2 linked regions of the Homo sapiens genome follow. The protein of the gene in region 2 interacts with the protein of the main gene of each other region in a biochemical or structural test. Each region holds a gene or a part of one and is shown on either strand. Other genes may lie near its edges.

Region 1 (2,400 bases), on a different chromosome or scaffold from region 2:
CTCCATCCCTTAGCTCACAAGCTCAGGAGCGCCGTTCTGGTCTGGGCCCAAACGCTGTCCACACCCGCTCACCTTTGATGTCAACAATGTAAGTCTCCTTTCTAGGGTCTTCTGGGGTCAGGTGGAGGGTGAATAGGTGGGAAGGAGGTGGCGGCTCCCCACTCGAGGGCTGATGTGCTCACCCTTCCCTGCCCTGCCTTCTCCTAGCCCCTGCATCTGGACTATGTGATGGCTGCTGCCAACCTGTTTGCCCAGACCTACGGGCTGACAGGCTCTCAGGACCGAGCTGCTGTGGCCACATTCCTGCAGTCTGTGCAGGTCCCCGAATTCACCCCCAAGTCTGGCGTCAAGATCCATGTTTCTGACCAGGAGCTGCAGAGCGCCAATGCCTCTGTTGGTGAGGGTGTTTGGCCAGTTGGCCAGGAGTCACCCCACATGTCCCCGGCCTAGTCCAGCCTCCCCACCAGTCCTCTACCCCTGGTTCTGCTCTGCTCTGTGACCCCAGGCCTGAGGTTTACCCACACCTTCCTTTGAGCCTCCCTTTGACATGAAGAGGGTAGGTTGGGGCAAATTATCTCCCTCCCTCCTCCTCCTTCCCACTATCTGGCCCTCAGGAGAACTTGCTGTTTTACTCTTGCTCTGTGTATTTCCCTTAGTTTTGTTCTTTCTTCTGTTTCTTCTTGATCTGTTCATCTAGGAGGTATGATCTCTACCAGCAGTCTCTCTCCCTTGATACTTTCCTGCCTTGTCTCCTTCCAGATCCGCCCCCATCTGTACATCTACCTGCATGTTTCTCTGTGCATCTTCACCCTCCATAGTTTGGGGCTGCGGTTTACTGACACCCCCACCCCACCCCATCTGCATATTTTTTCACCACCCCTCCCTTCTGTATATGATGCTTCTGTAGCTCTGTAACGCCCCCTACATTTACCTTCCTTATATCTCCCCCGTCTTCCTCTCCATAGATCTCCTCCCATTTCCCCTTCCATGGTCCCCATCTTCCTTCTGAAATGTCTACTCCTTCATGTTCCTTTATGTATGTCTTCCAATCTTTCCTTCCATAGCTCTCATCACCTTCATATATTTCTTCCATCTTTCTCCTCCCACCTGCCTCGCCCTCTGTATATACCCCCACTCTCCCCCTTTTATATCTTCTCCATCTCCCCCCATATCTTTCCTCTATGTCCACATCTGTGTATTCCCCCCAACTTCCCCTCCATATATCTTTTTTACTCCCCTTTTCCTCCCTGTATCCTCTGTGTTCCCCCCATCTTGCTCTACATCATTCTTCCCAAGATCTTTACGTCTCCCATCTTGATCTCTCCATCTCCACTTTCTCCTAACATTTTCATTTCCGTTCCTTAGTGTCTCTAGAGAGATCATTCTTGATAGCCTCAGCTCTTTCTCTGTGTTTTTCAGGTTTGTATTCTGCTCTGCTCTACCTCTCCTCCTTGCCCCTTTTCTCTCCCAGGATGTCTCTCCTTTCCAAATCCTTTTTGTACCTGAATACCTTTTGCCCCACCCTGGGCTCTCATTTCCATCTCAGACCTTAGCCTGGGATCTAAAGGGCTGACAGTGTCCCTTTCTTCATGCAGATGACAGTCGTCTAGAGGAGCTCAAAGCCACTCTGCCCAGCCCAGACAAGCTCCCTGGATTCAAGATGTACCCCATTGACTTTGAGAAGGTATGGGGTGGGGCTCAGGACAGGGAAGGAGGATGGGCAAAGCATAGACAGGCTGGAGAAAACAGGAGTATCTGGAGCCAGCCCCGGGCCTTTGTGGGGATCAGATTGTGGGCCTGCCATATGGCTCTGAATGAGTAGGTGTTCCCAGCCATCCCTTTGTGATCTGGGAGAGTCCAGCAGGCAATTGCAGTGGAGGATACACATCTTCTTTATCTGATCCTCTCCCCACTGCCTTCACACCCTCCCCACTCATAACAGGATGATGACAGCAACTTTCATATGGATTTCATCGTGGCTGCATCCAACCTCCGGGCAGAAAACTATGACATTCCTTCTGCAGACCGGCACAAGGTGAGGGGAATCTAAATCTGATGTTCCACCCTCCTCCAGGTTTGAGTTACCCACACTTAGCCCCTCTGTAGACCCTGAGGCTCTTGTACTTAACTACCACCTTCTTTTGTCCCTTCTGTCTCTCAGAGCAAGCTGATTGCAGGGAAGATCATCCCAGCCATTGCCACGACCACAGCAGCCGTGGTTGGCCTTGTGTGTCTGGAGCTGTACAAGGTTGTGCAGGGGCACCGACAGCTTGACTCCTACAAGAATGGTTTCCTCAACTTGGCCCTGCCTTTCTTTGGTTTCTCTGAACCCCTTGCCGCACCACGTCACCAGGTGGGGGCCTGCATCCGAAGCAGGGTTTGGGTGGGGTGTATCTGTGT
Region 2 (3,500 bases):
ATAATTTAGGATTGAAGTAAAATGCTCTTCCACATAGAAACTCTGGTTCCTTAGGATTTATATTTGGATGATATAGAGTAAGCATCCAGTTTTCAAAACCGCCTTATCCATTGTTTAAAGTGTTAATGAGTTCTTATGATATCAAAGTGGGACTTAAAATCTATTTATAATTTGTAAGGAAAACATAATTAGGACAAATAAGGGTTCATTTGGTCTGTGAGTGCCATGCAATAAGTTCTTCACAGGGTTGCATCATCCTTCTGAAAGACACAAGACTATCATTTTGTGTACTAAAGCTGTAATATAAATGAATGATTTGTGAGTTTGAATTCTGGGTTAAGGGTGGAGATACGGGGGTGTGAGATGTGACACGTGGCAGGCTATGGTTGCGACCTTGCATTTGAGCGCTTCCCATGGGTTCTCTTCCTCCTAAGCCACAACAAATCCAAAGAAGGAAGGAAATCAAAGGCTCAGGTAAAGGTGGCAGCTCTGGCTCTGTGGAGGATAAAGATTCTATGTCCATCTAGATGGCCCGACACTCTACCAGAGTTCCTGATTCTGGTGCTTGGAAGAGCAGAGTTAAATCATCTTCCTAAGTACTTAGGGCCAAAGAGTGACTTAGCCATAGAATGATGGTCAGATGTTTGCTGCATTCATTTCTCTCTGGGAATGTGAATGCCCTAATTTCTCATAAAGATTATTACAGAAATACTGCAAAATAGAAATACGTAGTACTTTGCCATTTGCTATTATAGTGAAGGGATTTGGACTTTTCCTCTGTTCAAATAAGTTAGAAAAATGGAATACTTAGGTAAATAAGATCTTGGTGAAATATTTTGTTGGTTATCTCCAGTGTTCACCACATGCAGAGGAGATAAGACATCTCAGCAGCGGCTAGGTACTAGCAAGATGGTGGCAACCAACTGGCAAGGCCTTTGCCCTTCTGGAGCCTCCATTTCAATAGAGTAAGGCTTAGAGGGCCAATGCGTATCATAAATGGAAGATAGGAGGACTAGTTTTTAAAAGTTGACTGTTGAATAATGAAATACAGACCAATTAAATATCTTTGGGGTTTATTTGGATTTGAGTTTTTATAGAAACTTAAATGTATATTTTTGCTCGTAGATATTTTGTGGTTCTCTCAACTACAAAGTTGTTTATGTTTTTAAGAACAATTTTAAAGACCATTTGATGCTTGTGATTTTTATGGTAACATATTAATATGACTAGATATATTTTGAAACATAGTTTTATGGTCCTATTAGCATTCATCAGTAACCAGTTGCCTACACCTCTGAATAATAGTAAATGGTTTAGTATTACTGAGCTCAAAATATTTGCACTTTTGTCACTTAAATTGTTTATATTGATCAGTCCCTGAATTGTAAGAAACTTCATACTGAAACCTCACATTTAGGCTGTGAGTTTGATATGAGTCTTTTCTAACCCACAGAGAACATTCACTAGAAATGAAGCCAGAAGTTTAAGGACAGCGGGATTTTGAAGGACAATGAAAATCCTTAGAAAGTTCCCTGATATTCGTGTTTGCCATTCTCCTCTCCATGCTACAGCCCCCAGTCTACTTCAGTGATGGAGCTGGAGGCCAGCAGGACCCATTGGTTAATTGTATAGTCTTCCATTTGGTTAGTCCAGGGAATAGTTTCCCACAACTTCTAGCTTCTCTTCCTTACATGAAAGTTGGTACAGGGATTTGACACTTAGTATAACAGATAAGAGACTTCTCTCGGGGTTTTTGGTGGGTTTGTTTGTTCTCCTGCTTGGCCTCCTTAACAGCTACTGTCTTGTGCGACCAAAGCTATCAACTTTGTTCCCCGCCTAAAAATTACAATGCCTGCTGTTGGTAGGAAAGGAATAGACATCTCATTTTTATCACCCCCTGAGTGGGGTGCTTGAGCAAAAGAGGTTACCATTTCCTTTATTTATAGGCTTCTTTCATAGTGATCAGAAAAGGGGTTATGAAAATATTCACTGTCATAATAAGTCTTGGGACATCCTTAAGAAATGTCATCACTGCCTTAACCCATATGCTGTGGGGTTGTGTTTACCAATAATAGATTGCAGTTCAAGAATTAGCATTGTCTAAAGTTATTGAGATATACTGTGTATTGTTTCTTCACAGATATATTTCACAGTAAAGGGACCTTCTATATAATTAGGGTGTTGTTTAGGGAGTTGATTACAGGTTTAGTCGTTTAATACATACACAGGAGATAACTCAAGACATCTCAGCAGCATCTATGTACTGGCAAGATGGTGGCAACGAACTGACAAGGCCACTGTCCTCCTGGAGCCTCCATTTCAGTCATTTACAGAGGATTGCGCCCTCCAGGACTCCATCCTCTTGTGCTGCCTGCCATTGGAGCATTGTATTCAGTGGCCTCCCACAGAGAGTATCAAAACTAACCCAGTATGTGGAGACCTATGTCAGTCTATTTATTTTTCTATCTCTGTGGGGCTGGAGAAGGAAATAAACATAAAACTAAAGATTTAAAGATTACTTTTGATTTCACTTAGTTTTTTTATAACATCCTTGTGTTATGGGTAGTTTCAGAATCTCAAGAATGAGCAGAGAATAGATTTGCTGTGTTTATCAGAGTAGAAACTTCTGATAGTCTGCCCTAAAAGAATTTAATTGGCTGATTTGACCCTTTATTATTATAGTGTTACCCCAATTAATCACATTTACAGAAATGACTTTCTTTAAGTAGAGAACATCAGTTCTTGGCTAAGCCTCTCTAATATGCCCGTTTGTTCATTGCCCTTTCTAGACGGAGTGCCAGCATCCATGGGGGCTACCTGGGGAGGTGAGCAGTAAAGGGGTCTAATTACAGAGCCATATGAGTTTGCCGAAGGAAGTCCACAGAGGATGAGCATGGCTGCTGCTGTGGCCTGGGTGACGGGATCCCTGCTCCGAGGTGGTGCCATTGAAACTGAGATCTGAGGGAGGAGGAGACCTAGGCATGAGAAGAGCAGGGGGAGGCACCAGGATCAGGGGTGGCACCAGGACTAGGTCAGGCCTCTCTGGGAACAGAACACCACATACCTGGAGATGGTGAGCAAAGGGTGGGATGGCATCGACAACAGATTAGAGGCTGGGAAGGCCTGTGATCCCTGAGTTAGAGCTGGCATTTAGACTGCTTCCAAAGAAGATGAAACTTCTGCTGCCATGTTGTGTATTGGGAGCTGGCTGGGGAGGTGATAGGATATGAGAAAGGGACAAAAAAGCAATTGATGGCATAGTTGAGTCTGATAGAGAGTTTAGGCTTTATCTTACGGGCTATGGATGGGCAGTGGTGTATTTTAAAAGAGGAATATTTGTTTGTGTATTGTTTTAAAGTCACTCCAATGCAGTGCTGCTGGGTGTGCTCTATAAAAGCCAAGAGTGGAACCAGCGGCCGTTTCAGCAGGTGCTGCAGTTGTTCAGATGGAAAGTGGGATGCCCTGGGCCAGGTTTGGCAGTGGAGGCGGACACAGCAGCT

The links. Proteins that work in one complex are often made in the same cells at the same time.
Region 1: the proteins of GAN (region 2) and UBA1 form a complex in vitro, tested with the Homo sapiens proteins (one study listed by IntAct).

The regions. Positions count from the first base shown.
Region 1 is NC_000023.11:47,210,829-47,213,228, forward strand, and holds part of UBA1 (ubiquitin-like modifier-activating enzyme 1), read left to right. Parts: intron 1-13; coding exon 14-88; intron 89-207; coding exon 208-397; intron 398-1,595; coding exon 1,596-1,684; intron 1,685-1,942; coding exon 1,943-2,035; intron 2,036-2,161; coding exon 2,162-2,353; intron 2,354-2,400. UniProt on the Homo sapiens protein: Catalyzes the first step in ubiquitin conjugation to mark cellular proteins for degradation through the ubiquitin-proteasome system.
Region 2 is NC_000016.10:81,321,462-81,324,961, forward strand, and holds part of GAN (gigaxonin), read left to right. Parts: intron 1-3,500. UniProt on the Homo sapiens protein: Probable cytoskeletal component that directly or indirectly plays an important role in neurofilament architecture.